Linked DNA regions of Homo sapiens. The protein of the gene in region 4 interacts with the protein of the main gene of each other region in a pairwise test. Each region holds a gene or a part of one and is shown on either strand. Other genes may lie near its edges. The genes, in order: RAB2A, TTPA, MIEF2 and FAM114A2.

Region 1 (7,040 bases), on a different chromosome or scaffold from region 4:
TGAGACTCCATCTTGGGAAGGGAAAAAAAAAAGAAACAATATAAAATATCAGAGTCTATCACCTATATACATAAGTTCCATCTACTGTTTCATGGAACTTACGTATAAAGGTATAATTTACGAATATTTTGTTATATGTGTAGGTGTATACACAATTTATTTACTAGGTCATGATGTAAAATACATTTCTTACTATAGGTCAAATCAAAAAACTCAAAAGCCATAGTACTTGACGATATACTTAGTGCAAAGTTTTAAAAATACCTCAGTTTTCCAGGCATTACATCATATTGTTGTCTTAGTTCACTCCCTCTGAATCCCACTTAAGTTGCTTAGGTTACTTAAGTATCTTTCTTTTAATTTATGGCCCCTTTTTGTTTAGGGTTTGCATTACAACCCTTACACTATTAAAAAACTTTCATTTTTTAAATCTCTGCTTCCTATTTCTTATATAACCAATTTATTAATAAAATGCCATAGTAAGAAAAATTTGTGTCATCTGTTGCTCTGACTAGGTCACTGCCCTTCACTGGCTCCCTACTGCTTAATGCGTCTAATTCAAAAATTGCTTATTCCCTGTTTTGATGTCTATCCACAGTTCAATTCATCTAAAAATAATCATCTCATTTATTTCTCTCTGTTCTTTCTTGTTCGTTATACTCCTGATTTTAAAGGTCACCCACCTACGATCATCAGAAACATCTCGTTTACATACTATGCTTTGTTTATTTCTTCTCACATTTGAACTATCAGCTCCTAGTGGTCGGTGACCAAATTTAAGCCACCAGTAAGCTGTCACTCATCATGTTTCAGCCACAAGGAAAAAATTGGTAAAATAAAAGGATAAAAATTCTCTTTATTTTCCAAGTATTCTCCTCTTATTATTTCATACCTTGAATGACAGAATAACTATTTCCATCATAGAAAGACTAAAACTTCCCTCCAATAGCTTTATAACCTTAAAAAGGTTTAGTGAGATGATTTAAATGTGGAAAAGAATACCCAAGAAAGGCCTTCAGAGAATATGATAATAGTTTCTTCTCTACACAAAGAAGTAAACAATGTTTAGCTTTTTATAATGTAAATATCACTTAGGTAATATTTTCTCTTAATAGCAAATCTCAATTTCTATTAAAACAACACTCTAAAATCTATACAGTATAACGATGTTTTACATTATAGCTTTTTTGAGGTGTAACAGACATAAAAGAAGTTGTACTTAAATGCAAAATTTGTTGAGTTTTAAGATATGTAAGCCCGTGAAGCCATCAGTCTCCCAAAAGTTTCCTCATACTCCATTGTAATCCATCCCTTCTTGCCCCTGCACCCTAGGCAGCTGATGATCTGCTTTCTGCCACTACAGATTAGTACACATTTACTAGGATTTTTATATAAATGTAATCACATGGTATTTTTGGTCTGAGTTTTTTCACTCTGTAATTATTTTGAGAATCATCCATTTTGCTGCATGTATCAATAGTTCATTCCTCTTTATAGCTGAGTTGTAGTCTGTTGTAATGCTGTATCACTATTTTTCGATTCATCTGTTAATTGATATTTGGGTTGTTTCCAGTTTGGGGCTATTAGAAATAAAGCTGGTATGAATATTTGTACATAATTCTGTGGACACATGAAGACATATTTATGTTGGGTAAACATCTGGGAGTAAAGTGGCTAGGAAATATAGATGTGTGCTTTATTTCTTTTTTTTGAGACAGGGTCTTGCTCTGTGGCCTAGGCTGGAATACAGTGGCATGATCATGGCTCACTGCAGCCTTGACCTCTCAGGCTTAAGTGATCCTACCACCTCAGCCTCTGGAGTAGCTGGGACTACAAGTATGTACCACCATGTTCAGCTACTTTTTTAAAAAATTTCTTATTTTTGTATAGAAGAAGTCTCCCTACATTGCCCAGGCTGGTCTCAAACTCCTAGGCTGAAGCAATCCTCCCGCCTCGGCCTTTTAATTTCTAAAGAAACTACCAAATTGTTTTCCAAAGTGATTGTATCATTTTACGTTCCCATCAGTAGTATATCTTCTGTAGTAATTGCTGGTTCAAATCTTTAGATCATTTTTAAAAAGTGGATGTCTTCTTATTAATGAATTATAAGCATTCTTCATATATTCTAGATATAAATCCTTTGTCAGATACATTTTTCACAAATATTTTCTGCTAGTCTGTAGCTTGTCTTTTCATTTTTGTAACCGTTTTTCTTCAAATTTATTTATTTAAATTGATAGGTAAAATTGCATATATTTATCATGTACAACATATTGTTTTAAAGTATATATACACTGTGGAATGGTTAATCTAGCTAATTTGCATTATCTCACAGTTATCGTTTTTTGTGGTGAGAACACTTAACATCCACTCTTTCAGCATTTTTCCAGAATGCACTATATCATCATTAACCATGTCACGATGTTGTATAATAGTGTAACCGTCTTTTGAAGAACAAAAGTTTTAAATTCAGTTAAAGAACAATTTATTGATTTTTTTTCTGAACTATAAGTTCATGCTTTTCTCTGTCCCATTTAAGAAATGTTTGCCAAAACAGGGTCACTACAATTTGTTTTCTTTTAGAAATTTTAAGTAGTTTTAGCTCTCACACTTAGGTCTATGATCCACTTCCAGTTAATTTTTGTAAATGGTATAATGTAACAGTTGAGGTTCATATTTTTACATATGACTATTAACTGTTTCAGCACCATTTGATGAAAAAGATTACCCCTTCTTCAACTAAATTAGCATCTCTGTCAAAAAATTAATATATCATATATATATGAATCTACTTCTGGAACTTCTTATTCGGCTCTACTGATCTATGTCTGCTTATGCCAAACAATAGTAAATTGACTATAGTATAATAAATCTTAAAATTTGTAGAATAGTAAATTCTCTCCAATATTGTGCCTCTTTGTCAAAGTTGATTTGGCTATTCCGTGGCCTTTGCACATAAACTTTAAAGTCAGCTTGTCAATATCTACCCTCCCAAAAAAGTCTGCCAATGTTTGATAGTTTGATTAGGGTTACAATAAATCTTTTTTTTTTTTTTTTTTTCTTGGAGACAGAGTCTTGCTCTTTTGCCCAGGCTGGAGTGCAGGTGGCACAATCATAGCTCACTGCAACCTTGAGCTCCTGGATTCAAGTGATCCTCTCACCTCTGCTTCCTGAGTAAGTAGAGCTAAAGGCGTGTGCCAGCATGCCTAGCTAGTTTTTTTTAATTATTATTTTATTTTTTGTAGAGATAGGGTCTTGCTACATTCTCAGGCTGGTCTTGAACTCCTTGCCTCATGTGATGCTCCTGCCTTGGCCTCCCAAAGTGCTGGGATTACAGATGTGAGCCATTGTACCTGGCCTTCAATGAATTTTTAGATAAATTTGAGAAGACATCTTATATTTAGTTTTACAATCCATGAACATGGTTATATCTCTTCATTTATTTAGTCTGTTTACAATATTCTCTCTCTTTTTTTTATCTATAGTGATGTCAACCTTTCTTTCCTGATATTGCTAATGTTTGTCTTTTTCCTGATCAGTATCTATTTTATTTTATCTTCTGAAGAATTAGCTTTTGGTTTCATTGGTTTTCTCTCTCTCTTTTTTTTTTAACGGGCAGGAGGCTTTCCTTAACTTTGATTTGCTCTTATTCTAGTTTCTTAAGGCAAAAAAATTAGGCTATTTTCTTTTTTTTTTTGAGACAAGGTCTTGCTTTGTTGCTCAGGCTGGAGTACAGTGGCATGAACACAGTTCACTGCAGCCTCAACTGGGCTCAAGTGATTCTCCCACCTCAGCCTCCTGAGTAGCTGGAATCACAGGAATGCACCATCATGTCTAGCTAAATTTTAAAATTTGTTGTAGAGATGGAGTCTCCCTGTGTTGCCCGGGCTGATCTTGAACTCCTGGGATCAAGCAATCCTCCACCTGGGCCTCCCAAAGTGTTGGGATCACAGGTGTGAGCCACTGTACCTGGCCCTAGGCTGTTCATTTAAAAATTTTCTTGATAGTACTATTTTAACTGCATCTCACACATTTTCAAAGACTGCAGAGAGAGAAGTTAACTTGTGGGAATAAACGCAAATAATTCCTGTCCATGGAAATGCAGACTGTGTCCTGTGGAATACAATTAATACCCTGTGAATACTGTTCAGTTTTGCATCCATCTTGTAAATTCATTTCAGTTTCTTTATTTGATTATCAATGTATAGTAATTTGAGTTCCCTTTTGAACTGGCTGAAATATCTTACCAGTTTCCTTATCTTGTTAATTAATGAGATAAAAGTTTTGAGATGTCTTCATTATCATATAAGTCATGATTTTACCTATCTAAAAACAGCATCTCTTCAGAGTATTTTATTAATATAACCCTAAAGAATGAATGGGCCGGGTGTGGTGGCTTATGCCTATAATCCCAGTACTTTTGGAGGCCCAGGTGGGAGAATCACTTGAGGTTAGGAGCCTGAGACCAGCCTGGGCAACAAAGTGAGACCCTTTCTTTATAAGAAATAAAAAGATAAACTAGCTGTGGTTGTGCATGCCTACAGTCTCAGCCACTTTGGAGGCTGAGGCAGGAGGATTCCCTTGAGCCCGGGAGGCCAAGCTGCAGTGAGCTATGATCACACCACTGCACTCTAGCCTGGGTAACAGAGTGAGTCCCTGTCTCAAACAAAACAAAACAAAACAAAACAAAACAAAACAAAACAAAACAAAAAGAATGGTGCCTAGCATTTTGAAAATACTAATATTTTCTTACCACTGTAAGTTTCTACAAAAATTAGTGAAAACTTTCCCACACTCTTAGAAGTTTATGGAAACTGGTCAAGCAAGAAGGTTTTCCCATATAATAGCATTTTAAATTGACAGCACAAAGATGTTCAATCCAACTCCCCAAATAAATCAGTAGGCTTTACTTTACATCAGTAATCTGATAAAACTCCTTCAGATTACTTTTTAAAGTATTTCTTTACACAAAAACTATTTCTAATAATAACAGTAATAATTTCCAACAAAGCTTATTAACATCATTTTAAAAATCAAAAGAAACACCTTAGAATTTCCGAAATTTTATAATTTAAGAGGCTGGTAACTCACATTTGAACAAATGTTAAGGAAAGTAGTCAAATAAACAGTACAGTCTTCATCACTAATGCAATGTAAGCTCTAAATTAGCCTTTTTACCTTTTATTTCCAATAAGCATAATGACCATGTTGGAATTGGAATGCTGGCGGGCATCTTCTAACCAGGTTGTCAAGTGGTTGAATGTATCTCTCCTAAACATAAATAATAATTTAATTACTATGTTCAAAGCATTTCCCTCAGTATACAACGAACAATATACATATTTTTAAAGAGAACCACTTTTAGCCATATCCACTTATGTAACGAGAAGTAGTTTTAAGCACCATATCTGGGTTTAGAGTTCACTGATTGTATTTCAGTTTATAAATTAAATGTAATCACACTTTAGAAAATTCCAATGAATAAATAATATGGCCGATTTCAATTTGAAGGTGCTAATTCAAATAAGAAAAACAATTCAGTTGCAGGTTTCTGTAGTAAATTTAAATTGGACTCAAGATGCAGTTTTAAAGGTGAGTAGCCGGGGCAGAAAGGCTAAGCTATTCTTTCATTACTGTTAACCACATCTATTTAGAAAAATTCTCTGTATCAACTACTGAATTGCAAAGTTTTCAAGTTCTCACCGTGTAATATCGTAAACTAGTAAAGCTCCTGCTGCACCTCTGTAATACGACCTTGTGATGGAACGAAAGGATTCTTGCCCTGCCTGTAACGAAAAAAAAGGTTGGAGAGTTTCCTTTAATACAATGTCCTCTACATTTTCATATTATTCATATACAGAATAAGAGCAGGTAGGGAAGGAGTGCATAAAGAGAGACAAGAAAACTTAACTTCACCAGTCTTAGGAAAAAGTTACAAAACACCGCTATTGCTCAAGATTGCTCAAGTCAACGAGACGCACATGTAGTGCACATGTAGTCGCTCCTGCAACCTCCCCAGCCCGCAAGACCTCTAAACCCTTTTTGGCAATCCCTGACAACCCAATTTACTGAATGGCTTCACAATACACGAATCATTATTAAAGGACAGAATGGACTCCTAGCAACTAAGCTCTGAAGACAAATTTGAAAGGAAGCAAATAACCCAGAGCCTCACATTTGAATTCAATAACCCACTCCCTGGGGCAGCTGTTGACACTAGAATAAATAAAACCCATTGTAAATAAATGATGAATGACATCTTTACGCCCACCATCTGCTGGTGTAAAGGTTGTTGGAAGGCCAAGGATGCAGATTTTATCAGTTATATCATAAACTGCAGTGAGCTTTCAACAGTCATCAAATGGAATTCTTTGAGCAATCATTTTATTATGAAAAGCAAAATGGTTCTGAATTTAATTTATATAAGTTTTTTTCTCCACACTTAATCAATTTTCTCTGTATTTGATATATAATGCTTGTCAAAAGGCAACAGGATGTAAAAGTCATCTTTATATCCACTTGTGAAACAGACACAAGAGATTATGCAAAGCTAGGTAATTTCTCTTTTACTCATGGTACTAATTTCTGTTTTTTTAAGAATTGCTGGGGAGGAATGTGACTGTTCTGTCTGAGTTTAAAACCGAGACAGCTCTTATAAGAAGTTATTTTTCATTTTTAATCCCTTCTTTTCCTACTTTTGCAAAAACATAAGCATTTTAATTAAGTAAACGTAAAGCCAATTTTAACGATTTTTATATTCAAAATCCCCTAACTTGAAAAATATTGATGTTTACACATTCTGAGTTCTGATCTTGCAATGTAAATATTTAGCCCTTCCCACCCTCAGAATGCGCATGGACGGCTCATATTCTACCCTGTTTAACACTCAACACTCTACAATACCTTGCTCTTGTTGACCCTTCCTCTATACTCCCTCCCTCCCCCATCCCCCACCCCCTGCATGTGACTAAGTGTGTGCTAGGCACTGGGTCCGGCATATAGCAGGCATTCAGAGAAAGCCTGTTGAGTGAAAAAGTGGA
Region 2 (7,040 bases), on a different chromosome or scaffold from region 4:
TTGGGAAGCTGAGGCAGGAGAATCGCTTGAACTCGGGAGGCAGAGGTTGTAGTGAGTCGAGATGGCCCACTGCTCTCCAGCCTGGGCAACAGAACAAGACTCTGTCTCAAAAAAACAAAACAAAACAAAACAAAACAAAAAAACAAGCCTCAGATTTCTCATAAGAATTTGAACAATCAACCCATGGATAACCCAGATCAAAAATACTATACTAACTTCAGACATTGGCTGAATGCTATAATGATTAAAAAAAAAAAAAAGAACATATGAAGTTTGCCAATCAAAAAAATAGTTTATGTCCTAAGTTCTGAGCCAACCAACATAATTGTTTGGCCTACACTGGCTAATATGGTAGCCATTAGCCATGTGTGGTCATTCAAATTTAAATTAAAGATTTAGTTTCACCAGGTGCAGTGGTTCATGCCTAGAATCCCAGCACTTTGTGGGTCTGATGGGGGAGGATTGCTTGAGGCCAGGAGTGAGACCATCCTGGGCAACATAGTGAGAATGCATCTCTAAAAAATAAAAATAATAAAAAAACTGGCTGAGTGTGGTAGCACATGCCTCTAGTCCCAGCTACTCCAAAAGCCGAAGTGGGAGGATCACTTGAGCCCAGGAGTTCAAGACTGCAGTGAGCTATGATTGTGCCACTGCACTCTAGCCCAGATGGCAGAGTAAGACCCTAGCTTAGAAAAAAAAAAAAAAAATCTGTTTCTTAGTTGCAGTAGTCACATTTCAAGTGCTCAATAGCCACATGAGAATAGTGTCTATTGTAGAACAGTTTCATCATCATAGAAAGTTCTATGGTACAGTGCTGGCTAGAATTTAAGCTCCATTGAGGCAAAAGAAAAATATACCTTATATTTTGAATTCCTTCTCCAGTATCTACTTAATATGTATTGAGTGCTTTTATGTACCAGGTAATGCTCTTGTTATATTTTAGATAGACAGACTGATAGATTGATTTAATGCTTACAGCAACCCTATGTGACAGCTTTTCAATGTGCCCATTTTACAGATGAGAAAATGCAGTTACAGCTACATAGTGTTTCACACAGCTAGAATGTAGCAGAGCTGAGATTCCAATCCAGGTCACATGCTCCAGAACCTGTATTCACAAGAACTAAGCCACAGTCAAAACTTCACACTCACTGTTAAATTTTACTTTTGCTGCTAGTAGTATACTATGGGATCTCAAAAAACATAAAATTATATCCTACAGCATGTTGGCTGATAAAGGTCAAAACTTAGCTTCACCTTGGGTTGCCCGGCCCGCATGGAGGAAAGGGCTGTGTGCATTTTCTCATTGCTTTTACTGCACAGAGATGGTATCTAGAGAAGGTGGTTATGCTAAAGTTCTACCGAAAAGTTCCACCACAGATTTCCTTCTTTAGCTCCTCCCATTAATTCAATCAAATTTAGAAAAGTTTTCATTTTACTCATAAAACTTTCTGAGTTTCTCCCTTTCATCCTAGAATAACAGAACATACAGGAGATTTGCAACATACCTTCCTGTTCTGACCATCACTAAGTTACATGTTTTCTTGATTTTCAAATCTCTTGAGTTAAACAATATACTTCTAAATTAATGTGCTACATGAGGCCCAGAAAAATACCCCTACTGGTTCAGTGTTAAGGTATTTATGATCAAAACTGCACATCTGCTTTCTCACTATCAAGGTGTCACTTTTACTTCTTCACCTGCCTCAGTCACTTTATGAACAAACTAGACACAATAAAATCTAGCCAGACAATGCAGAGCCAAGACATTTACAAAAATAATTAGCTGCAGGTTTCAGTTTTATGTTTCTTGGATCCCTGAGTAGAGTTGCCAGGTAAAAATATACAACACTCAATTAAAGTTGAATTTCAGATAACCAGTATATAATTTTTAACATAAGAATGCTCCATACATACTTTAAAAAAACTGTTGTTTATCTGAAATTCAAATAACTGGGCATCCTTTATTTTTATAACATATAGGTTTATTTCCTAAATAAAACATAGGTACTTTGTTAAATCTGGCAAGACTACCCCTAAGAAGCTCAAGGAACTTCATTGCTATGAGCTCATTCAATTTCCTCTGACACTGGTGCAGCAATGAAAGAACAGGAAGATCATGATGTCTGTTTTATAGATGGGATTTCATGATTAACTCAATTTTATTTGACACTTAAGCTAGGGCAAAAAAAATTAAAAAACAGCCCCAAATCATTTTACTCGATCTTCCAATATCCTTTCAAAAATTAAATACAGTAACTTCTTGCAGTATGGCAAGCAGTTGAGTTACAGGCAGGTATCTTATCTATAAGCAGGCAAGAAATGCAAATATTTAAATATTTTAAATCTTTAAAGATATAGTTGTTTCTGTAAAATTATAATTAAAAAATTCTGGTCATGAAATGTTGGTTTATCTTTGTCCTTCAACTGGGCCATGAGAAATTCTGGGAATAGTGTGAGTCGTTCTCCTGTGCCGGCCATTTTTAATCATATGCAGGTCTGAGGGAGGACAGAAGTTATAGGTCACCAACTGCTATGATCTGAATGTTTGCATCCCCTCAACAGTCATATGCTGAAATTCTAACTCCCAAAGTGATGGTAGTAAGAGGTGGGCCCTTTGCAAGATGATGAGGTCATGAGGATGGAACCCTCATGAATGGGATTAGTGCCCTTATGAGTTCCAAGAGAGATGCCTTTTCACTTCCAACATGTGAGGTTAAAGTGAGAGATGTCACCTAGGAACCAGGTAGCAGGCCCTCACCAAACACCAAATCTGCCAGTGCCTTGATCTTGGATTTCCCAGCCTCCAGAACTGTGAGAAATAAAATTCTGTTTTTATAAGTCACCCAGTCTACGTCATTTTGTTATAGTGGCCTGAATACACTAAGACACCAACCTACAAGAAACACTAGCTACACCTAATAGAAAAAAAGGGGATGCAATGAGAATAAACAGGAGTTAATGGAATACCGTGTCTGCAACAGCTCCCAGAGGAGTTGCCTTTCCTCTGCACCCTCCTCCACCCAAGAGAATGAGCCTCTTGCTCCTCGGCCTGGGGCATTTTCGAACTAGTCATTCACTCACTCATTCCACAAATATTTAGTGACTACCTACCAAGTACCAGACCATGTTTTCAGTGCTTGGGATACACCAGCAAACAGAGTAGATGAAATCCACAATCTCATGGAGTTTACATTATAGCCCAGAATTCTGGTTGTTTTTTGTTTGTTTGTTTGAGACGGACTCTTGTTCTTTTGCCCAGGCTGGAGTGCAATGGCGCAATCTTGACTCACTGCAACCTCTGCCTCCCAGGTTCATGCAATCCTCCTGCCTCGGCCTCCCGAGTAGCTGGGATTACAGGTATGCACCACCACACCCAGCTAATTTTTGTACTTTTAGTAGAGACGGGGTTTCACCATGTTGGCCAGGTTGGTCTCGAACTCCTGACCTCAGCTGGGATTACAGGTGTGAGCCACCATGCCCAGCCAATAGTTCAGAATTCTTATTTGCACTTCCTACTAAGCATTTTTGAAACACTTTTCCATGATTTTTTAAAATATTCTCACACTATTCATCTTCACTATTTTCCTTTCTTCTTATTTTGTACAGTTGACTGTGTGGAAGAATGGAACTAGGATTTTCACTTGTATCTGTTAATTTTCTCACAATTACCAAAGTGTTATTATATTTGGGGGACATTAAGACCTAAATTAAATCTAAGTTAAAACCTAAAATTTTAAATTAAAGCCCAAATTCCTAAAGATGAATGCATTGAAGCTTTCTATATGGTATTCAAGGAAGAAATGGAAGAAAGAGAGAAGAGGAGAGGGGAGGGAACACAACTGAACTGGAGGAGAGGAGAAAAAAAAAAGAGTTGTGTATGACTTACCGATTCTGTAAATAAGAACTTTGCTGCCAGTGGGATCCCTGGATCTCAGGACTCCATGGTAGCCAGCCTTTAGGAGGCCAATAATACTTCTAGGGTGTAGATCTGCACTTATTTCTGGACATTCTGCTCTCCACTTATAATAGTTTTTTAGTAACTGAAAAATAAAATTAAAATTGTCTACAAATGGCATACATGGTAATGATTTTGTAAAAATGGAAGAAAAGCTTTGGCATTGTGTATAAACTTTGCCATCCATTATGTCAAGAGTTTAATCTAGGGTATCTTTTCAGCTGTGAAAACTGAAAGTTCTTTTATCAAGGATCTGAGGTGACAGGGGTTAATCACAAATTCAGAGCTGAGCAACTTTCATTCACCACCCATGGTAGATATCCTCCAAAGACAGCCACCAATTCCTCCCCTCCTGATACCCATGCACCATTCTTCCCATTAAGAGATGGCATCTATTTGCTTCACTCCCCTTGAATCTAGGCTGGCCTTCCACCTTGCTTTGATCTAATATCAACTGGCAGAAGTGATACTGTGTGGGCCAAGCTTTAAGAAGCCTGGTACCTTCTGAATGTACTATTTGGGATCCAGACACTATGTGAGATTACTGAATGATAGCAATTCATGTGGAGAGAGGCATGGAGGTTGAGAGGACATCCTGGATAGTGTGACCTCAGCCAAGTTCCCATCTAATGCCATGTGGAACAGAGATGAACCACTCCCACTGAGCCCTGCCCAAACTGGTGATATCAAAAACAAATAAATCATTGTGTTTTCAGCCACTAATTCTTGGAGTGACTTGTTGCTCAGCAATAGAAAGCTGAAACACCACTTTTAGTATTTTTTGAAATAAGGAAGTATAGAAATCAATCAAATGAGTTAGAAGAGCCCAGGAGCAGTATACTTGGATACTGGATCTTGTCAAAATATGGTCTGAAGAAATCCCATTTTCTTTCTTTCCAAAAGAACCACCGGAAATAGCTAATCATATACGCAAACATACAAACACTACCAGCATATTGTGGAAAATACTAAAGCAAATTATGTATTTAAAAATTATTATATTTATATTTTAATTTTATTCTCATGATTTTTGGCACTCTCAATTTTTCACAAGTTACAATACATTTGTTTTGAGTTTAAAGAGACTTATTAATGTGAGACTGCAGTGCAGAGAAAATGACAGATTTTATATTTGAGAGTAATTGGAATAAACAAGGTAACTATAACCACAAAAATCACAATGATCTGGAGGAGAAACTACAAACGACAAAAACTAGAGAGGGAAATGCTGAGCCTTGGGAAATGTTAATGGCTGGGAATGGCTGGAGGAAGACAGAAACTGAGTGGACCTGAAGAGAACCAGCACTGGTACACGAGAGGGAGGACAGTGCCATCTGCATTGCTCTGCTCCCCCTCACCCCCATCTCTGATTTATCTCCCTCTCTTTCTCTCTCTGTCTGTCTCCCTCTATTTCATTTCTGTATTTAATAAACCTTTCTTAACTTTGAAAAAAGAGAGAATGTTGCTAAGAGTTAAATGCAAGAGAGGAGTAAGAAAGAAAAAAGTCAATTTGCCAACAAAGAAATAATTGGTGACCTAAATAGCAGTTTCCAAAAGCATGAGAACAACAGGCACATTGTAGGTCCTAATATCTTCATTCTACTCTACACGGTGCATTTCTCTTCCTCCTCCAGTCTTAGGGGGTACCAGAATAACTGTTAACAGTATTTTACAATGCTTTTTACTTTTCTGATAGTTTCCTCAGACATAAAAATCTTTTTCATTCCAATTCAAGTAAAATGCTGGAAGCTGCACATTAGTAACTATATAGAAATAATGTGTTTTTTTTTCCTGTGGAATGATAAAAGTTGTGGCTTCATTAGAAGGGATCATTTAGGTTTAATACTGGCAGGGGCCTCAGCTTATTCATCTCTGCAGAGTGCTGCACACCCAGGAGATAACAACACGTGTTGAATGAAAGAATAAATTAAGTCATGAGTAAACCAACTGGAACCACACACTTGAAAAACTGACTTCTGTAAAGAGGCACAAATCACTATCTCGCACAATTTTTGCAAACTGAAAGATCTAAACCTGGAACTTTGGTCTTTACTTATCCACTGATACATAAATTCACAGTATAGCTGTCATAAATAAATTATGTAAATAAACTGCTACTGAGCAATTCTCAAACAAACCACCCTATGTCCACAACAACAACAAAGAAGTGGCTAAAAATAAATATTCATCATTGGAAGGTGTCTGTTTTGCAAACATTAGAAGTAAATAAACATTTAAAATGTTATGGGTTAACTATGTTTTGTAACAGAGTAGGTTTCTTCTTACATGTTTCATGTACTTTGAAACAAAATAAGAACCACCATATTTGGAGCACTTTTATAGGGTCTAATGCCATCTTTTGAATTCCTCCTCACCATCACCCTGAGAAGTAGCTACTGTTGTGGCATTATAAGAATAAGAAAAGTAAAGCTCCAGCCAGGCACAGTGGCTCATGCCTGTAATCCCAGCACTTTGGGAGGCCAAAACGGATGGATCACGAGGTCAAGAGATCAAGACCATCCTGGCCAATATGGTGAAACCCCATCTCTAAAAATACAAAAATTAGCTGGGTGTGGTGGTGCGTGCTCAGGAGGCTGAGGCAGGAGAATCGCTTGAACCTGGGAGGCGAAGGTTGCAGTGAGCCGAGATTGCGCCACTGCACTCCAGCCTGGGCGACAGAGCCAGACTCCGTCTCAAAAAAAAAAAAAAAAAAAAAAAGTAAAGTAAAGCTATGAGAAATTACACATTTGTTCAAAGGCAATAACTATCAGGAGCAGAGTGGAAACTGAAATGGACACATGATATGAAAAATTTTATAAAAGAAGCTGCATTTAGAGAGAAATTAGCAGGGAGAATCTATGGAATTTGGAAAGCTTTGGGAAAACCATAAAGATAATTATAGCATAAAAAGCTTATCACATGGAACAAAAGTATAAGGAACTAGGCTATCACTTGATATAAGGAATTCATGAGACTATGTAGAACAGGCAGAGAAGTGAATGGTTAGCTGTTTTATATGTTTGTTGTTTTAAATATAAGAGGCAAGTGCAGTGTATTTGACAGCGCAGGCTCTCTCCTGAGC
Region 3 (3,431 bases), on a different chromosome or scaffold from region 4:
ACAGCTAGTTCTCGGTGGCGTTTTCTTAACTAATCACAGGCTGTTCCGACATGTTCCCCGCCCCTTCACTCTGCAGAAGGGCCTGCAGAAACTGATCCTGAGGTGACACCACAGCTCAGCTCCCCAGCACCGCTGTGTCTGACACTGCAGGAGAGGCTGCTGGCCTTCGAGCGGGACCGTGTGACCATCCCAGCAGCCCAGGTGGCTTTGGCCAAACAGCTGGCTGGCGACATCGCCCTGGAGCTGCAGGCCTACTTTCGGAGCAAGTTCCCGGAACTGCCCTTTGGGGCATTCGTGCCTGGGGGGCCGCTCTACGACGGGCTGCAGGCGGGGGCTGCGGACCATGTGCGTCTCCTGGTGCCACTGGTGCTGGAGCCGGGCCTGTGGAGCCTGGTGCCGGGCGTGGACACTGTGGCGAGGGACCCTCGCTGCTGGGCCGTGCGCAGGACGCAGCTTGAGTTCTGCCCCCGTGGGAGCAGCCCCTGGGACCGCTTCCTGGTCGGGGGCTACCTCTCCTCCCGCGTCCTGCTGGAGCTACTCCGCAAGGCGCTGGCTGCTTCTGTCAACTGGCCGGCCATTGGCAGCCTTCTCGGGTGCCTGATCCGGCCCAGCATGGCCTCGGAGGAGCTGCTGCTCGAGGTGCAGCACGAACGCCTGGAGCTCACTGTGGCTGTGCTTGTGGCAGTCCCTGGGGTCGATGCTGACGACCGCCTCCTCTTGGCCTGGCCCCTGGAGGGGCTGGCGGGGAACCTCTGGCTGCAGGACCTGTATCCAGTGGAGGCTGCTAGGCTGCGAGCCCTGGACGACCATGACGCTGGGACTCGCCGGCGGCTGCTGCTGCTGCTGTGTGCTGTCTGCCGTGGTTGCTCGGCTCTGGGGCAGCTAGGCCGGGGTCACCTGACCCAGGTGGTCCTGCGTCTGGGGGAGGACAACGTGGATTGGACGGAGGAGGCCTTGGGTGAGCGCTTCCTGCAAGCCCTGGAGCTGCTCATCGGCAGCCTGGAGCAGGCCAGCCTGCCCTGCCACTTCAACCCCAGCGTGAACCTCTTCAGCAGCTTGCGTGAGGAGGAGATTGACGACATTGGCTATGCGCTATACAGTGGCCTACAGGAGCCCGAGGGGCTGCTCTAGGTGGGTGGAAACGGGTGGTTGCCATGTTTTCTAATGCTGGGGAGCTGCACCCACCTCCCTTCCAGGGATTTGAATAGTGGTTTTTCTCTAGCTTTTTGCCAGAACAAAGGAGGGTACATTACTTAAACCCAGGGCATCAGGATGTGCTTGGGCTATGGTGGCCATAAACCCTGAGCCCAGAGAGCTTGGGTCACTGTCACCTGAGTGCAGCTGGGCTGCCTCAGGCAGCTTGGAGTGCCAGCCATTCCTGCAAGCACCGTTTCAGCTCTTGGGGCCAACCCCAGGACCTTTGGCTCTGTCCATCACCAGCAACCAATCCACCAACAGAATGTGGTTTCTGCCATCCTGGGCAGAAGCTGAAGGCCAGCTTCACATTTCTGCTGAGAGAAGGTGACTTAACGCCTTTTCCGGCCCTAGCTCCAGGCGTTTTGAGGCGTCTGGTGCCTGATGGTAGGTATGGTGTGTTTGTTCTGTCCCCCAGGGGCTGGAGTCACCTGGTGCCCCTGAAGGACAGATTTTTGGCTGTTAAAGGATGGCATTTTCCTGCTGTCTTCTGTGCGTTTAGTTTTCTTGCTGAGCGGGAGCTCAGTATGACTTGCCACCCACCTGATACCTCAGGGCAAGGCCCTTTTTCCCTCCAGCCAGGTGAGTGTTTTCTTCAGGCAGCTGAGGGTCCTGGGGGAGCTGAGGCTCTGTGCTGCACCCCCAGCCCACAGCTGGGGCATCTCACTGGAGCTGTTCCAGGCCCCACTGGAGAGCAGAGGACCTGATCCCCCACTAGAGAGGTCCGGTGTGCACAGCCGGCCTCCCAGTGTGCCAAAATGAACTGCTCTCAGCTGATGGCTGTATTCTGACTTTGAAGCCTGTTAAGAGGTAGCAAGGGGGCTAGAGGAGGGAGATTCCACCTCCCCTCCCAAGTGACCCTCCTCCTGCCTCTGGTATCCTTCCTTTTGAAACGAAGCTCAGCTTCGAAGATGTGAACAAGAATAAAAGGAAAAAATTCTAATGTATATATAACTCAGGCTGGATAAGGGAGTCTTGGTGCTTTCATACGCAGCTGTTGAGGGTTTTCTGTAAGTCCTGTGGCTTGTCCTGGCACTTTGGCAAGAGTGCTTGAGGTCAATTGGAGGTGGTAGAGTTTACTTTAAAAAGTAGCATCTTGGCCGGGTGTGGTGGCTCGCATCTGTAATCCCAGCACATCGGGAGGCCGAGGCGGGCGGATCACGAGGTCAAGAGATCGAGACCATCCTGACCAACATGATGAAACCCCAACTCTACTAAAAAGACAAAAATTAGCTGGGCGTGGTGGCACGCACCTATAGTCCCAGCTACTCGGGAGGCCGAGGCAGGAGAATTGCTTGAACCCGGGAGGTAGAGGTTGCAATGAGCTGAAATTGCACCACTGCACTCCAGACTGGCGACAGAGCAAGACTCTGTCTCAAAAAAATAAATAAATAAGCATCTTGGCCCCGCGCTGTGGCTCACGCCTATAATCCCAGCACTTTGGGAAGCCGAGGCCGGTAGATCACCTGAGGTTGGGAATTCAAGACCAGGCTGACCAACGTGGAGAAACTCCATCTCTGGTAAAAATTCAAAAAAATTAGCTGGGCATGGTGGCACATGCCTGTAATCCCAGCTACTTGGGAGGCTGAGGCAGGAGAATTGCTTGAACCCGGGAGGCGGAGGTTGTGGTGAGCTGAGATCGTGCCAGTGCACTCCAGCCTAGGCAACAAGAGTGAAACTCTGTCTCAAAATAAAATAAAATAAAATAATAATAGTAATAATAAATTAGCATCTCAGTCTGTTTGGGCTGTGATAACAAAATGCCATAGACTAGGTGGCTTATAAACATCAGAAATTTATGTCTTACCATTTTGGAGGCTAGAAATCCAAGAGTGAGTCACAGATTCCATGTTTGGTTGAGAGCCCACATCCTGGTTCATAGGTGTCCCCATCTAGCTGTCCTCATGTGGAGGAAGGGGGGAAATGCTCTCCTAGGGTCTCTTATAAGGAAACTAAGCCCACCCATGGGGTGGGGGCCCACATTCATGATCGAATCACTTCCCAAAGACCCCATCTCCTGTTAGCAGTGCCTTGGGGGTTAGGATTTCAGCATACAAGTTGAAGGGGACACAGACTTTCTGTCCGTGACAAGTAAGGTAAGTGGAAGGAAAAGATGAAAAGCTTGGTGTTGCTTTAGTAATGGGAACCAGCCAGTTTGGGATGTTTCTTCCCGCAAGGCTGAACTGCTGAGCCCTGCACCATACTTTCTGTAATTAGTGGGCTGTTGACAGCCCTTC
Region 4 (7,040 bases):
CTTCAAACTATACTACAAGGCCACAGTAACCAAAACAGCATGGTACTGGTACCAAACGGGAAATATAGACCAATGGAACAGAACAGAGGCCTCAGAAATAACATCACACATCTACAACCATCTGATCTTTGACAAACCTGACCAAAACAAGCAATGGGGAAAGGATTCCCTATTTAATAAATGGTGCTGGGAAAACTGGCTAGCCATATGGAGAAAGCTGAAACTGGATCCCTTCCTTACACCTTATACAAAAATCAATTCAAGATGGATTAGACTTAGACCTAAACCCATAAAAACCCTAGAAGAAAACCTAGGCGATACCATTCAGGACATAGGCATGGGCAAGGACTTCATGACTAAAACACCAAAAGCAATGGCAACAAAAGCCAAAACAGATAAATGGGATCTAATTAAACTAAAGAGCTTCTGCACAGCAAAAGAAACTACCATCAGCGTGAACAGGCAACCTACAGAATGGGAGAAGATGTTTGCAATCTACCCATCTGACAAAGGGCTGATATCCAGAATTTACAAAGAACTTAAACAAATTTACAAGAAAAAATCAAACAACCCCATCAAAAAGTGGGCAAAGGATATCAACAGATATGTCTCAAAAGAAGACATGTATGCAGCCAATAGACACGTGAAAAAATGCTCATCATCACTGGTCATCAGAGAAATGCAAATCAAAACCACAATGAGATACCATCTTACACCAGTTAGAATGGCGATCATTAAAAAGTCAGGACACAACAGGTGCTGGAGAGGATGTGAAGAAATAGGAATGCTTTTACAATGTTGGTGGGAGTGTAAACTAGTTCAACCATTGTGGAAGACAGTGTGGTGATTCCTCAAGGATCTAGAACTAGAAATACCATTTGACCCAGTGATCCCATTACTGGATATATACCCAAAGGATTATAAATCATGCTACTATGAGGACACATGCACACATATGTTTATTGTAGCACTATTCACAATAGCAAAGACTTGGAACCAACCCAAATGTCCATCAATGATAGACTGGATTAAGAAAATGTGGCACATATACACCATGCAATACTATGCAGCCATAAAAAAGGATGAGTTCATGTCCTTTGTAGCGACATGGATGAAGCTGGAAACCATCATTCTGAGCAAACTATCACAAGGACAGAAAACCAAACACCACTTGTTCTCACCCATAGGTGGGAACTGAACAATGAGAACACTTGGACACAGGGCGGGGAACATCACACACCTGGGCCTGTCGTGGGGTCAGGGGATGGGGGAGGGATAGCATTGGGAGAAGTGCCTAACATAAATGATGAGTTGATGGGTGCAGCAAACCAACACGGCACATGTATACATACGTAACAGGCCTGCACGTTGTGCACATGTACCCTAAAACTTAAAGTATACTAATAAAATAATTTAAAAAAGAAAAAGATACTTGCACACGCATGTTTAAGCAGCACAATTCAAAAGTGCAAAAATGTGGAACCAACTCAAATGCCCATCAATCAACGAGTAGATAAAGAAACTGTGGTATATATATACATGATGGAATACTACTCAGCCATAAAAACGAATGAATTAATGCATTCGCAGCGACCTGGATGAGACTGGATGCTATTGTTCTAAGTAAAGTAACTCAGGAATGGAAAACCAAACATCATATGCTCTCATTCACAAGTAGGAGCTAAGCTATGAGGATGCAAAGGCTTAAGAATGACACAATGGGCTTCGGGGACTCAGGGGGAAAGGATGGGAAGGGAGTGTGGTGTATACTGCTCAGGTGCACAAATTGGGTGCAGTGTATACTGCTCAGGTGATAGGTGCACCAAATTCTCACAAATCACCAGTAAAGAACTTATGTAATCAAACACCACCTGTTCCCTGATAACCTATGGAAATAAAAAAAATTGAAAAAAACAGAAGACAAAAAGCACTGGTAAAGATAACTATGTAATTATAAATGATATACATGTATATTTCTTCTCCTTAACTGATTTAAAAAGAAAAAGAAAAAAAAGTCCCTGTTTGTAGAGAATCCACACAGTTAACTTTATGTTTCCTGTCACAAGAAAGACTCTAAGACCCTCACTCAGAGCTCTTTGCTTTTAATAGACATCTCAAATAAAATTAGTTACCTGGTTTCTCACCCACAGATTAGAAATAGAAAACCAAATAAGATTCAGGGGATATCAGAAGCCAGCTAACAGTGAAGTAAAAGATGAACAGATAAATGAACAGAAAGAAATAAAGATGTACAATTCTAAAAAGCAATCAGAGACATTTCTAAAAAGCATTGCAGTTTAGGTCATTTAATCTGGTAATTCTCAAACTTGTTGGTCTCAGGACCTTGTTCTTGTAAAACTTTCTGAGAACATTAAAGAGCTTTTTTAGTGTAAGTTTTATACATATACATATAAAAAGTTATAAATATTTATATAAAGCTAAAACAAAGTGTTTATTAATTCATTCAAAACAGTAAACCCATACCACTTATTAACATAAACCTACTTTTTATTTTAAAAAACTATATTTTTCAAAAAAGAAAAAGTTTAGTGAGAACAGTGCCATCAGGGTTGAATCTCTTTAATATCTAGTTTAACAGATGACAGCTAAATTCTCTTATCTACTTTTATATTCAGTCTGTTATGTTGCTTTAAGTATATGAAGAAAATCCAACTTTACAAAGATACATAGTTGGAAAGGGAAGAAGTATTTTAATAGCCTTTTCAGATCATTATTAATATTCTTTAATACCACATTAAAACTCAACAAGTGGTCGTTTCTTAAAAATTAGTTGCAATGAACCATATTGCAGTATACCTGAAACCATATCATAAAATTTTGTACACTAAATTAAAATCCATTAGGTCTTTTACCCATGGTGATTTGACATTTAGAAAATATTGGTTCTCTGAGTTATGCAGACTTTCCAAATGCTGACACATTTCCTTGTTAAAATATCAAAAAGTGATATTTTAACAAATATGATCACCACCAATTTCATAAGAAGAGTCTATAAGCACTGGGAAGCTGTCAAGCTCACCACAGCAGCAAATATGTTTTACAAAGTTTCAACCTTCACTTAAATTTTTATCATGACTCACAAATAAATTAGTTGCTCTCCTTGAAGAAAAGGTTCACTTCATTCATTTTCAGGAAAATGTGTACCAATTATCCTATTCTGAATAGTCTCTGTGACTGTTATCCTTTCAAGTAAAAATGGTATTCCACGAAAAAAGCACATAGTTCAGCTCACAACTCAAATAATGTAAGTGCTTTTCCTGAGACAACCATCATACTTCAGTAGGCATCACACAGAATATTTGTAAGATGCATACTTAAAGGTAAAGATTTAATAAAATTAATAATTTTTACTGCTTCATCAAGGACAAGATTAAATAAAACTGGCACTTTTTTTTTTAACTGCCAATGCATGGCAATGAAAATGCAATGACACTAGTAGAGTCTGCTAACATCTTGATCCATGTTATGGCACCAGCAATTTTATGCATCATTGTTATTCACCAACAGCACAAATGCCAAAGCAGAAAAAAAACTCATTATAATTTTTAAAAAATTCCTAAGTAGACAACATCTTAGTATTATGATGCAGAGTTCTGACTCATAGACTCCCTGAAAGGGTTCTGGGAATTCAAGGGTCTACAGACCACACTTTGTTCATCACTGATTTAACCTACTACATGGGTGATTGGCCCTATGTCTTAATGAAACCTGAGAGAATTTTTCCATTCACTTTTAATGTTTATAACTGATTATTTCATGAAGAAAAGGCAAAACTGTATTCATTAGATTCCACTTTTTTAAAAAAAAAAGGTCAGTTAGTGTATATCTTAGAAATATTTCCAGCTAAAATGTCAATAAAACAACCCTTAGAACTTAATATTCAGTTGCCTGGCAATTATACTTTACGTCAGCCATCTCATTTCCTGACCCATCTCATTTCCTGATAATTTTGCAAATATACATAGTATCTACATTTACATTTTCTGAGAAATGAAGATATTAAAATATGGTATAAGAGTTTTCAAAATAAAAAAAGACAAACTATCACCCACATTTTAGATAACTGCCATCCTGCATGCTTCAATTCAAGACAGAATCAGGGGTTACAAGAGTCAGAGAGGCAGAGGTAAAGTACCTAGGAATATGAAAGCTCATATGAATGACCAGTCAAACTGAGGCAAGAATCTGATGAGAACAGCTTTCTAACTGCAAAAATAGGCAAAGATGTGAGTTGCAAGATTAGACCTTGAGAAGCCACAAAGGGTTTGGTTGGAAGGAGGCAGGGAGACATGGGCATAAGGCCAACTGCCCCCATCAATGCCTAGTCAGGTGCAAGGCTGCAGAGAATTTTACACAGAGAATTTGCATAAAAATTTTCACCAAAAAAGTAAAATCAAGCCAGTGTAATAAGAGTAAATAATTTATTTCAAGGGCAATGCACTGCATACAAACACACTGCATCCTCTCCACTCAGATACTAAATTTTCATATTACCTTTTTTCTCTTCTTCCTCTTCTTCACAAAATTCTGCTAGAGAAAATGTTTCTTTGAGTTGCTCTAATTCAACTTTTAGAGTCTCTAATTCTTCTCCACTCAGAGAATTAAGGATAGATTTCACCTGAATGGATACAAGAACAAAATGTTGTAGGAGTATGAAAGAAAAGAAAAACATTCACAAATAGGGAAGAGACTATAAAAAGATCATATTGAAGTCAAAATTATGAGCTCATCAGCCAGCACAAGTTATTCCTTAAGAACCTTAACACAAGAGGCTGGTTATGACAGAAAGGTAGGGAGACTCTGTGCTTCTAAAAGTAATACCAGCCAGAAATTCCTGGAAATTATCAGTGTTTAGCAACAGCTTAGAAATAACAAAAAAATTAGATAATCTTAAATCAATTAAAAGCTAACAGGTAACTGTACACAAATTGGCAGCTCAAGTCAACAGGTTTCTTGGCAGCCTAGGCCAAAGAAACTAAAAAAAAAAAAAAAAGACCAAAACGAAGGAAAAATAACACATGTCCTATTAAGACCTCTTTGTTAACCTTTTTTGTTTAAATTTAAAGAAATAATACTTGACTAATTCTGCTTTTAGCAATTAGTTCAATCAAACATTAGTTTTTAAATTTATTTTGTGGTAGTATTTCGAAGGCATCTCAAGCCTCTAACAAAACATACACTTCATCTTCCAAATGTACAAAGAGAAAGGAAACCATGCAGCATTCTTTTACTTGAAGACTTTTTCCAGTTGAGATTTTGGCTTGGAATTACCTTTATTTCACTTTCTTGGGAAAGCATCTCCAGAGCTTCTAGATGTGAAAGGCCTTGAAATTCATCAAAGAGTAGCCCATAATGAGTTTTCTTGTCTGTTTCCACGGTAACCTCATTGGAGGTCCGTATCTCTTCTTTCTCCTTCGCCTCTCGTAAAACCTAAAAAGAGATGGAGGCATTACACTGTAGCAAACAATGAGAGCTCAAGGGTGAGTTCTGAGAATTGAAGGAAGCAAAGCTTAGACAGGTTAGAGTACAGAGGATTGCCCTTTCATTCTTGGCACTGCTATTCAAATCTGGTGGGCTCAGGAGCTGCAGAAAGAAAAACGATCACACATAATTTGAGACGGAGTTTCACTCTGTCACCCAGGCTGGAGTGCAGTGGCACGATCTCTGCTCACTGCAACCTCTGCCTCTCGGGTTTAAGCTATTCTCGTGTTTCAGCCTCCCAAGTAGCTGGGATTATAGGCATACGCCACCACGTCCAGCTAATTTTGGTATTTTTAGAAGAGACGGGGTTTCATCATGTTGGTCAGGTTGATCTTGTACTCCTGACCTCAACTGATTCACCTACCTCGGCCTCCCAAAGTGCTGGTATTACAGCCGTGAGCCACCGTGCCTGACCACATAATTTGATCCTAGACAGTGCAAATCACACCCAAGGAACCAGGTGTTTCTCTGAAAGTGATTTAAACATTAAAACAAACAAACAAACAAACAAAAAACCCTGACAGGGTTTAGCATTTTGCACTGCACTGATGGGAGGCTCCTGCAGAAAGAGGAGGAGAAAAAGAGCTGGGTATTTTTGTAAGCAGTAGAGCTCTCACCCATCCCTGATCCCCCCAAAAAAACGCCTGAATAAACATTATTGAAAATGCTTGAAAAGAAAACACTAACAAGGTTCCAAGTAAACAAAGGCAAAAATACAGATCAAAACAGAAACAGGAAGTAAACAGGTAAGGATAATCAGTACCTGAGATAGTGTAGCATTTCGGTTCATCAGACCCTTGGTTCTTTTAAATCCAGGATCCCCTTCTGCTATCACATCCATTGTCTTTTTTCCAATGAATTCTAAGGCATCCAAACCCCCACTTATAACACTCTTTCCCTAGAAAATACATGCAACCTCATTACAACAATATTAAGAAAACATATTTTTATGCATTTTTATTATGTATTTATTATATAAAAATAGTGGCTAACAATACCAAGCACTGGCAAGAATGTAAAGCAAATGAAACAATCACACACTGCTTGTGGGAACGTAAATAGGTATAACCACATTAGAAAACTGTTTGTCAATATCTACTCCAGCTGCATGACCCAGAAATTCCACTCATGGTTACATCCTAACAGAAATAAGTACAGAGGTTCATCAGAAGACATGCACAAAAATGTTCATAACAGCTCTGCTTGTAATAGCTACAAACTGAAAACTACCCCAATGCTCACCAACTGTGGAATGAATAAATAAAACGTGACAAAGCTTCACAATGAAATACAACAAAGAAAATCAAATCTACCACACAAACTGCAGCATAGGTAAATTATACAAATATAATGTTGCATGAAAGAAGTTAGATACTATATATGATTCCACTTATGTAAAGCTGAAATGCAGGCAAAATTAACCTATGATGGTGGAAGTCAGGATTATGGTTATCTTGGTGCAGGAGAGGGGGAGAGCAGAAGACACAGAAAACTGGGAGAGGACACAAGATGGTGGGGAGATCTGATTACGGTAATAC

The links.
Region 1: the proteins of FAM114A2 (region 4) and RAB2A interact in binary tests that used the Homo sapiens proteins (3 or more experiments, as listed by UniProt).
Region 2: the proteins of FAM114A2 (region 4) and TTPA interact in binary tests that used the Homo sapiens proteins (3 or more experiments, as listed by UniProt).
Region 3: the proteins of FAM114A2 (region 4) and MIEF2 interact in binary tests that used the Homo sapiens proteins (3 or more experiments, as listed by UniProt).

What each region holds. Positions count from the first base shown.
Region 1 is NC_000008.11:60,582,954-60,589,993, reverse strand, and holds part of RAB2A (ras-related protein Rab-2A), read right to left. Parts: intron 5,787-7,040; coding exon 5,704-5,786; intron 5,272-5,703; coding exon 5,179-5,271; intron 1-5,178.
Region 2 is NC_000008.11:63,069,046-63,076,085, forward strand, and holds part of TTPA (alpha-tocopherol transfer protein), read right to left. Parts: intron 4,044-7,040; coding exon 3,890-4,043; intron 102-3,889; coding exon of another isoform or gene 1-101.
Region 3 is NC_000017.11:18,263,634-18,267,064, forward strand, and holds the end of MIEF2 (mitochondrial dynamics protein MID49), read left to right. Parts: intron 1-76; coding exon 77-1,131; 3' UTR 1,132-2,919; downstream 2,920-3,431. UniProt on the Homo sapiens protein: Mitochondrial outer membrane protein involved in the regulation of mitochondrial organization.
Region 4 is NC_000005.10:154,021,884-154,028,923, forward strand, and holds part of FAM114A2 (protein FAM114A2), read right to left. Parts: intron 6,401-7,040; coding exon 6,266-6,400; intron 5,452-6,265; coding exon 5,293-5,451; intron 4,640-5,292; coding exon 4,516-4,639; intron 1-4,515.